2 separate regions of the Homo sapiens genome follow, and region 1 is linked to region 2. A link means that fine-mapping ties the variant in region 2 to the expression of a gene that starts in the linked region. Tissue or cell type: sun-exposed skin. Region 2 holds a variant in brackets; the other region holds the start of a gene. All regions are shown on one strand. Distances are from middle to middle.

Region 1 (5,378 bases), 42 kb after region 2:
TAATTTTTAACATTTAATTAGACAATATGATGTTAAGACTATACATGAGTCACGAAAAATCCCACCCAGATAAAAGCAAACCTTTTTCCTCAAAACTGTTCTTATTCTTGTTCTATCCTCACAATATCATTAGTAAGAAAACACCACACGCTATAAGCATCCTTCGAAATGTTTACCCAACATTGTGACCCAGTTGTAAACTTTCTGTAGCCCCATGGAAACACTTACTTCTGGGAAGAATGAATGACTCTCAATATAGCACAAATATACTCCAAAGGAAAGGCATGGTGACTCCTAAATGATCTGAGGAACAGAGGACTAGGTAAAGACAATGGAGGCAGAGTTATGGAAAGAAAAATTAAATTGTATTGGCAAGGGAACAGGCATTCTTTGGAAAGTGAGATAACAGGTCTGTCTTGTCTAGCGCTACATTTAACAGTTTTTTAGATCTCACAATACAAGCTAGAATTCCACTTCTGTTTATTTCAGGGTAGATTTACATCAGTTTAGTAATTCACCCCAGACCTCTGAATAATTGTTTCATGTGATCTACATGAATAGTGTATTATTACTCATTACCAAGTAATTACCAAGATAGTCAACAAGATATAGCCCAAAGGGAATTATACACAATAATTTGGGTGGTGGAGGGGGGTGGGGAGGAAGGAAGAGTTGGGAGTCACACAAAGGGATGTGATTCACCTGTAAAGGTTGAGGGTGGGGGGTTACAAAGTGGTCCTGGCAGAGAAATCACAAGGCCCAGGTTCCAGGACGACACTGGTAACTAGGAAGTGTGTGACCTTGTGCATGACGAGATGGATTATTTCAAAGATTGGATCTCATAGATCAAAAGAAGGGACTGTGCTGAACGCTCTTTCAGATTCCTCCCACTGTCCAAATACCAATTGATATCTCCACTCTGGGTATGTGCCTTACTAGGTCCGGCTGGGGAAATTCGGCCTTCATTCATCTGATCTGGCACAGTGACCGAGCCCTGGGGCATGCGCCCGGCCTCATCTTTCACCTGAGGAGGCTCCTCCATGGCCGGGCGCCCCGCGGGTGAGTCGTACGGGGACGTGGCGCTTCGAAGTTTATGGGGAGCCTCGCACACCTCAAGTTGAAGGAACTGCTGAATCAGGGTGCCCCAATTAAGTCAGATCTTAGGCAATCCTATGGTTCCTTTACTCTCCCTCACCCTTCCTCCTACTCTGAAAAGAAACCGGATCGGCCTGTCCGCCCAGAGGTCACCTGGGAAGAGCAGAGTGATGTCACTCGGCTACCCCCAAAACTGCCTCCAAGGTACAAAAGAGCTGGAATATCTGTGCATGGTCCAAAGGGACGGCACACTCCGGAAGGTGACCCTTTAGAAGGTATTATTACCAGACTGCAGCCTCGGCCTCTGGGATGGGTGCGGGAGGAAGGTGGTGAGTTTCCATCATCCCGCTGCCTTGCCGCACGGCGGCCAGGTGCTGCTACACATTCAAACCCGACAGTTTGGCTTAGTGGGTTGCGAAAAAAGAACTCAAGGGGAGGAAGCACCTGCAGCCACCCAGGCCGAAGTTAGGGACCACTTCCCCAGAGTTACGGACGGCAACAACCAAGTCACGTCTGGAGTCACCTCTCTGGCTTCCGGCTCCGCAGGGCTTGCCCTCCCGAGTCACCCAGGCAGAGGCCGGGGACGCCAGTAAGGGGAAGGTCGGAGGGTCGGGAGGACAGTGAGGGGAGGCGGGCTGGAGGAGCCGGGATGGCGAAAGGTGGGGGGTGGGGTGGGAGGGTTAGAGGGGCCCGGGGCGCCGGGGCCGGGGTGTGTGGGTTGTGGGCGAGGTGGCCGGGGCGGCCAGGGGGCGCGCAGGATACCCTACCTGTGGTGGAGAGCACGGTGCTGGCGAAGAAGAGCGCGGAGGTGAAGTCCCAGTTCCAGTTGCCCGAGGCGTTGCTGAGCACCGACACGCCGTAGTTGCTGGCCTCCAGCACCCGGCCCAGGAACTGCTCCAGCTGCTGCTCAGACAGGCACTCGTGCTCCTCCAAGAAGCGTCGCTTCAGCTTGCGCAGCTCCTGGCGCAGCAGGTCCTCATAGGGCAGCTCCACCGAGGAGAAGACCACTGCGCCGAAGACCAGGTAGAGCAAGTAGCCCAGCACCAGGAAGCCGAAGCACCAGGCCGAGCGGTGCCGCTCCACCAGGCGCACGCACGAGCTGCCGGCCAGGGACTGCAGCATCTTCTCCACCGCCGCCGCCAAGGCCAACGCCGCAGACCGGCCGGAGCGCGGCCCGCCGCCTCTTCTGGCCCCGCCGCCCCCGCCCCCGCCCGGGCCTGGCTCCCGCCCGCCGCCCGCTCCCCCGCGCGCCCGCCCGCCCCGCTCCTCCGGGCAGCGCCGTCTTCCTGCGATTGGCTCTCTCGGGCGATGTTTTTCTTCCTTCTTTTCCTGTTTCCTTGCAATATAAAAAGCCCAGATGATGTGGCGCTGACGTGGTTGCCGGCTCAGGTAACCCGAGAGTCAGCGGAGACCGCGCGCAAACTTGGCCAGAGCGCCTGGGCTGGGCTGCCGGGGCCCGGGACGCACCGCCTTCTGCGCACTCCAGAGGTGGGGCGGGCGCTCGGTGGCGCCCAGACCCCGACCCGACAGCCACCAGCTCCTCCCGCTCCCTCCCTTCCTGGGTCCAGTAGCCAAACTCTAGCTGACCGCGCGCGGCGTGTGCGTGTGTGTGTGTGTGTGTTCGCGCGCGTGTAGTGTGGGCCGCTTCTGGTCAATGCGCTGGCCGTCCAAGCCCCCTGTCCAAGCTACTCTTGTTTCCCACTTATTTTCTCCCAATCAAAGCCAGTATTACAAAACAGCAAGCGCTGAAGTACTTTCCTTCTTTGTCTTATTGGTCGAAGGATTGAGCAATCTGGTGCCAGTAATGACGGTGAAAATACCAGAACATCAGAGTTGGAAGGCTCCTTGAATCAGTCTCCTCTCTCCCACCCATCCCCCTCACAAAAAGGACTTGAGGGAAAAGGAGAGTCTCAGAGAAGTCCTATTTCTGAGTTCGAATTTTCTAAAACATGACCTTAGGTTTTTTGGTGAAAAAACATCCCAAATGTGTCAACTGCCAGAAGAAACTGAGCTTTCCCAACTGTCACTTCTTTTTAAAGTGACAAAAATGTGGGCGAGGGTCAGCGAGCCGCCTGCTTGTGGATGAAAATAAAAATTGGTACACCCTTTCTGGAAAGGCAATTTAGCGACACGTCTCAAGAACCTTGAAAGGGTTTATTTGTTCTGATTCAGTGATATGTCCTAAGAAAAAACAATCAGAGAGGCACTTACTTACAAAGACTGGTCATAGACGGTATCTATATATACATACATGTAGTTGTATAATATAGTGCATACACATGTGGGACACACACACACACACACACACACACACGGTATAGATGAAATAATGAAGACTCAGAACAATCTAAATATTCCAAAATAGAGAATGGTTAAATAAGTTATGGCATCTCTACAGCATGGACACCATATAGACATTAAACACATTAAAGTTGTGTCTAAAGACTATTGAAGCAAAACTGTGTAGAATCTCAAATATGTAAAATATTTGTATTTTGTTACAAAATAAAATGACATCTGCATTATTAATCAACTGCATAGGAATAAAACTATCTCCTTGCAGTTGTCTTTGGGTAATAGTAGAGTATATAGATGACTTTCCTTTCTTGTACCTTTTAATATTTTTCAAATTTTCTACAGTGGATATATATTATTTTTGTAATCAGGAAAAACATTTAAAATACACAAAACTGAATTGTACAATTAATCATTCCAACACCTAGCTGAACATTTGCCTACTTTACTGAAGTTCTCTAAACAAGTCATATTTTGTATTTTCATAGAAACTTGTGCAAATGTCTAACATATATATCAGTGATTTTTCACTTTTAGTCAATAGCCTTACCTCCTACGTTACTCAAAAGATTGAAGCCAGCCCTCCACTTTACTTCTCTGTACTTCAAAATTTACTCATCGGTAATCCATTTCTTCCCTTTGCTCTTACCCCTAAGGAAAAAATGTACCTCCTTATTTTCAAGGTGAAAGGAAGCACTTACCACTCTCAGTCCTTCCGCCTCTGGGAACCCTTCCCCATCAGCAAGTGCCCTACTCTTTTAGAACTTGAATTCCTCCTTCTCCCTCAAGTCTCCATCCTACAATGTCCTTCCCTGTCCTGCTCTGTAACCCTTGCTTGCCCTATCCTATCCTTGATCTTTGCCTATTTGCCCTGTTCAGAGACCTCTTCATTCATGAGGCTACCCCCGGCCGTAGCAGACCCTCAGAATTCTCCTCCTGCCTGTCATGATCATTTTTCTCCCTATGTCTCTGCTCACCTGATTCCTTCTGCTTGGACAGTTCCTCCTCCATCTCCATCTGTAACACAGTTTATATCCTTCAGGACCTGGCTCACTCATGAAACCTGTGATTCCCCAACAGGATGTGAGTTCCTCTTCCCAAGACATACAACCCTTTGAATGCCAGATTGTGTGGGGTACTTGTGATGAACTGCAGGTGCAGGTGTGGTTATATCATCACACTCAAATATACATACATGTATTGTGGGAAAAAGAGTTTCTGGAGTGCCAGTTGAGTTGTTCTCCCCTGTGTGAGACACCCATGGGGAGCCATGGGTGACCTCTGAGGAGAAAAGTCTCCTTATTGCCTTCATGTCTTTATGCCCTGAGAGCATAACTGCTCGGGGGCATTCCACAGGCTGCTCAGGGAGATAACACGCCCTGGAAGCAGTGGAGTATAATCAAACATCTTGGCTCCTCCTGAAACCCGCTCCCACCCCTTTCAGTCCCAATAAGTTAAAGATCTTAAGTAGTTTAGACACACGCAATCTTAAGTAGTTTAGACACACGCCTTTGCTCAAGGAAATTCACAGAGACCACCACTGCTGTACATCTTATTGAATGACTCACAAGTTCTCCTTCACTGATTAATCCTTTTCCTCATCCCTTCCTCCCCCTCCCATCTGCCCTAAGAACAAAGAGCTTGTAAAACAATAAATTAGTTGGAGCCCAAGAGCTCTGGGCCATGAGCAAGCCTCCTACACAACGGTCCCCTGGACCCACCTTTTAAATGCTTATTCTGCCTCTTTCTAACTCCTGTGTCTCCGCTGGACTCGGGGTACCCGCCGGTTGGTGTGGGGCTGGTTCCCCCAACATGTATATGGCAGCTTTGAAATATGGTTGCAAATTCTTTGACAGTCCCTCACCAAAGGGTAGGGTTTCTGTCCCCTATCCTTGAAACTTGTGACTACTTCAACTGACAGAGTACATAAGAGATGATACTAGGTAATTTCCAAGGTTAGATGATAAAAGACCAGCAGCCTCCAACTT
Region 2 (5,378 bases):
CAATTTAACTTTGAAATGTGTTGAACCTTTCTTAGCTTGAGAATTTAAATTATGATTATTTGTCCTTATTTTTTCATATTTTTAGAACTGTTTTTCCATCCATTTTAAAAATACGAATCCCTGCCATGTCTTTTCACACCACCCTCTGCATACTCTCACAAATGAAGATCATCTCATCAGGCCTTGCTTCCTAAAACTGAAATTTCAAAAGAAACACGTATGTTACATACAATTATTCAAATTCTTTATACTCCTTTTCTCCATTCTCTCTAAGCTGGTGAGTACCTGGTTGACAGTCCAGCTTTTGATCAGTCACCTTCTGCTGTAGGAGGCTAAGTTTGTCAAAGTGATAAAAAAAAAAATTAACACTTTTAAGTTATAACTTAGTAAAATTTGCAGTAAGATATTAAATGCTATAGTAGGACAGCATAGGTAACAGACCAGGCTGTCTTTCTCTCTCTCTCTCTTTCTTTCTTTATTTCTCTTTCTTTCTTTTCTTTCTCTTTCTTTCTTTTCTTTCGTCTTTCCTTTTTCTTTTTTCTTTCTTTTCTTTTCTTTCTTTTTCTCTCTTTCTTTCTTTCTTATTTCTTTGGCTAATCATCATAATTACACAGTTCCTTATGAAAACAAATTCTGTAATAATCTCTTTATCATCTCAGATCCCTGCAGACAATATGGCTTGGCTTGTTCAACGGTACCATCTACTGCACACTGTGATTTGATGTCTTGCTAGGTTACTGCGGGCAGATCATGGTAGCACAGGAACATGACCCACTACTGGATATGGGTAATAACCACATATCCAGCTTTTACCACATATCCAATTTTAATACAGCTTTCCCCCAATTCCAATCAGTCACATTTCGAAAACATAAGAATCCTACCTAAGGCTTTTCCATCCCAAAATTTACTGACACTGCCTTGGCTGCGGGGGTTGTGGATGAAGGGGGACAAAAAGCGATGAGAAAGCAGCTCTCGTGAAAAGGTGGATTTGTCCCCCTCTCACCAAGCTAAATTAAACTCATCCTCACTCATCCTCACTGCCCATCCTCCCAGACACAAACCAAATGGGCTTCTTACTCAGTACTGGCCATCTCTCGGGCAAGATTTCCCTTTAATATTTTCTTACTAAATTACATGAACAGATTAATTAGAAAAGACTTAAAAAACAACAAGCTATCTAATTCTCTGACAGAGTATATTTACAATGTGTTATGACTAGGACCAAAAAAAGTAAATAAAAGAGACTTAAAACGAAGCTTTGGGCTGGGCATGGTGACTCACACCTGTAATCCCAGCACTTTGGGAGACTGAGGTGAGAGGATTGCTTGAGGCCAGGAGCTCAAGATCACCCTAGTCAACATAGTGAGCTCTGTCTATACAAAAACTAAATAAATTAGCTGGGCATGGTGGCATGTGCCAGTAGTCCCAGCTATTCGGGAGGCTGAGGTGGGAGGATCAATTGAGGCTGGGAGGTTGAGGCTGCAGTGAGCCATGATCATGCACCACTGCACTCCAGCCTAGACGACGAGAGACTCTGTCCCAAATTAAATAAATAAATAATAAAGAAATAAATAATTGAAGCTTTGTCACCCTTGTGTGAAAGCTGATCACATGAAATGAGTCATTCTTGTCATACCCAACAAAGAATCAATAAGCCAAGGGGAAAAAGCACTCAGGGTGAAGAACATTGCTCCAAAAAACATAATTTTCTGCAGGCCTGGCAGCTGACACTGCCTGCAGTAACCTGAAACCAGTTTTGTCTAACGACTACTGAGACGACCTGCTGCAACTCTCAGACTGGGTTTACGCACCACCCTCACTTATCAGTTGAAGCCTGCCAGCTCCTCAAAACCTTACTGGTGCCAATGAAACTTCTCAAAGAGCAATATGCAACATTTCTCCTTTTTATAAAACCTCTAACCTTCTCTTTGTTCTTCAGAGAGAGCATTTTCAGTTCACACCGGAGACTCTCTCTTCCAGGTTTGTAAACCAGTATTGCCAGTGAAACTCTCTTTTCTGTTATCTAGCCATCCTGATGGTCCTTTGGATGACACTTGTTTAATCCTGTAACCCATTTGAATGCAGAGGTGTCAACATTACAATTACTGATGGTCTCACAAAACTGTCGTTTCCTTCAGCATCCTTTCCTAGGGACTTGAAATCCACAAAAGTAGAATGCTTTACGATTAACTGAAAATGATGAGAAGCAACCACCAAGCATAAGTTAAAGAGCTGTCCAGTATGCCCTTGGCATTGGAGCCGTTTTTTTTTTTTCCCACTTTACCTCAGTTGCTCCTCATCCAAGGGTATCTTAGTCTGTTCAAGCTGCTACAAAAGAATACCACAGGCTTATAAACAACAGAAATGTATTTCTCACAGTTTTAGTGGCTGGGAAGTCTCTGATCAAGGCACCAGCAGATTCAGTGTCTGGTGAGGGCTGCTTCCTCATAGACTT[C/T]TCACTCTAATCTCACAAGGCAGAAGGAGGAAGGAGTCCCTCTTATGTCTCTTTTATAAAGGCACGAGTCTCATTCACGAGGCCTCCACCCTCATAACCTAATCACCTCCCAAAGGCTCTACCTCCTGATACCATCACCTTGAGAGGGTGGGGGTTAGGATTTCAACATATAAATTTGGGAGAGACACAAACACTCAGACCATAACATTCTACCCCTGGCATCCCAAAATTTCATGTCCTTCTCACACGCAAAATGCATTCAGTCCATTCCAATGGTTCCAAAAATCTTAACTCATTCCAGTATCTACTTGAAGGTCTGTAGTCCAAAGTCTCATTTAAACAGCACCTACATCATATATGGGTGAGACGCAAGGTATGATTCATTCTGAAGCAATTTCCCCTCCAGCTGTGAGCCTGTGAAATTAAACAAGTCAAGGGGCTTCCAAAATACAATGGTGGGACAGGCATAGAATAGACATTTCCATTTCAAAAGAAAGAAAAGAATAGAAAGAAAGAAAAGAAGAAAGGATAGGTCCCTAGCAAAGTCCAAAATTTTGTCTGGAGAATAATCTTCTTTGGCTCAATGCTCTGTCCCCCAGGCCCACTAGGGCTGTGGTCCTGCTTTCCCAACCCACGGGCGTGGTGGCCCTCCCCAAAGGTTGCTCTGTGCCCTTGTGGCTCCAAGAGCTAGAATCGTGTCTATGACTCTACAGGTCTGGGGCTGCTGGGGTGGTCCTACCACTCGGCTATCCTGGATGTTGCTCTAGTAAGGGCTCTCTGTGGAGGTCCCATGCTTGCCTGCTCAAGCTTTTGCACATTGGAGCTGTGATGGAGGTGGCAGCCCCAATTACTTCTGAATCACCTTGAGCAACAGGTTCCACTTGGTTGACTAATCTCCTTATCAGATGGTCATTTGGCCGCACCCTTGGTGTTCTTTCCCAATGTGCCTTCTCATTTATTTATTTATTCTTTTTTAAGAGATGGACTCTCACTATGTTACTCAGACAAGTCTCAAACTCCTGGGTTTAAGGGATCCTCCTGCCTCCACTTCTCTAACAGTTAGGACTACAGGCATGAACCACTGTACCCGTTATCTCATTCTTCATAATATGGCTAGGGTGAGAATTTTCCAAATCTTTAAGTGCTGCTTCTCTTTGATTAACAATTCTGTCTTTAAATCTTTTCTCTCTTTTCACATTTTAATGTAGGCTGTCAAGAGAAGCCAAGCCACAACTTTCACACTTTGCCTAGAAATTTCCTTATCCAAATATGTAATTTCAGTGTTCACCGCTCTACCTTCTGCAAAACACTAGAATACAGGCACAATTCAGCCAAGTTCTCTGACGCTTTTTAAAAAAATTTGTTTTCTTTTACTTTAAGTTCTGGGATATATGTGCTGAACGTGCAGGTTTGTTACACAGGTATACATGTGGTTTACTGCATCTATCAACCTGTCATCTAAGTTTTAAGCCCTGCATGCATTAGGTATTTGTCCTGATGCTCTCCCTTCCCTTTCCCCCCCACCCCGATGGCTTTTTCTCCATTGTCCAATAACATGGTCCTCATTTCCCTCTGAGACCTTATCAGACTGGCCTTTATTACCCATATTTCTGCCAACGTTCTGTTCATGATCACTTAGGTATTTTCTAGGAGGATTAAGGCTTTCTTTATAGCTCTCCTCTTTTCTTTCTGAGCCTTCACCAGAATCACCTTTAAAGGTCAATTCACAGCAATGTAGGCTTTTTCTAGTGTGCACCTCCGAACTCTTTCCAGTTTCTACCCATTACCCATTTCCAAAGCCACTTCCACATTCGTTAGAAGCACTCCCACTTCTTGGTATCAATCTTTATATTTGTCAGGACTCTCTGAAGAAACAGAAGCAATAGGATATATATAGATATATAAGAAGAGATTTATTATGGGAATTGGCTTATCCAATTACGGAAGCCAGCAAGTCCCTTGGCATGCCGTCTGCAAGCAGAAGAACCAGGAAAGCCGGTGGTACCATTCTGCCCAAGTTTGAAGGCCTGAGAACCATGGAGGCCAATGACATAACTCCCAGTCCAAGGTCAGGAGAAGAGAGAAGTCTCAACTCAACAAAAGACAAATAGCCCTTTCTCTCCCTTTTTGTTCTATTCAGGCCCTTCATGAATTAGATAACGCCTACCCACCTTGGTGAGGATGGATCTTCTCTACTCAGTCTACTGATTCAAATGCTAATCTCTTCCAGAAACACCCTCACAGATGCACCCAGATGTAATGTTTTACCAGCTACCTGGGCATCCTCTAGCCCAGTCAAATTGACACAACAATTAACCATCAGTCAGGGAAGAGGTTTCAAAATGTAAGTTTTATTATTATTCAGGTATAGTGAGGCCAACAGACCAGGGGATATCTGTAATTGAAAAGACAGCTTGTTCAGGTTTCAAAAGTGGGGCATGCCATGCCATGCTGTGGGGGCACCTAGGGAAACATCAGTTGGTCAGGACACAAAGGAATCAAGGGGGGAACTTTACTGTGGTTTCTGCAGGAATAAATGGGTGAAGCAGCATAAGCAGGTTTAGGGTTAGCTAGTTTGAATCATTTCAGCAAGCTTTGGAATATAGGAGTTGTCCCAGTTGTCTGGTACCAGGCTCTGGGGTGACTGAGGCAGAGAATTAGTGGCTCAGAAGGTGAAAGCCTGATAAAGAAGGTGGCTGGGGGATGGGGCTCCAGAGTGTTCAGTTTGCATAGGAAAGGCATGCTCACAGGTGAGTCCTTTACTGTCCTTAGGAATTGGCCAGCCCTGGGAAGGGCAGTTCCTTCAGTGTCAGCAAAACCCAAGATGTCAAAGCATCAGAATAAAAAGATAATACAGAAGGAGTGTGTGACCAGAGCCAAGCTCTGCAAAGGCATGTCCACCAGCATGGCCTAGAAACAG

Alleles and levels. Positions count from the first base shown, and alleles are read on the strand shown. Sizes are in standard deviations (SD) of each study's normalised expression.
For the expression in sun-exposed skin of the gene that starts at base 2,283 in region 1, C is the high allele of the variant in region 2 and T is the other (small effect, 0.20 SD a copy in GTEx).

The links. PIP is the estimated chance that this variant, and not a neighbour inherited with it, causes the effect.
Region 1: it holds the start of KCNK1, and the variant in region 2 is fine-mapped to the expression of KCNK1 in sun-exposed skin (GTEx, PIP above 0.99). The same link has a PIP of 0.9 or more in unexposed skin.

Annotation. Positions count from the first base shown.
Region 1 is chr1:233,611,011-233,616,388 of GRCh38, reverse strand. KCNK1 (potassium two pore domain channel subfamily K member 1) reads right to left here and starts at 2,283. Exons shown (of 3, transcript NM_002245.4): 1 at 1,863-2,283. The coding sequence starts at 2,217. RefSeq lists enhancers at 1,257-1,316, 2,505-3,157 and silencers at 1,787-1,846, 2,187-2,256, 2,617-2,716.
Region 2 is chr1:233,652,804-233,658,181 of GRCh38, reverse strand. All of the region lies in intron 1 of KCNK1 (potassium two pore domain channel subfamily K member 1), which reads right to left. Among named protein-coding and RNA genes, the nearest start is that of MIR4427, 31 kb to the right of the region's middle. The variant C/T (reference allele first, on the strand shown) is at 2,459.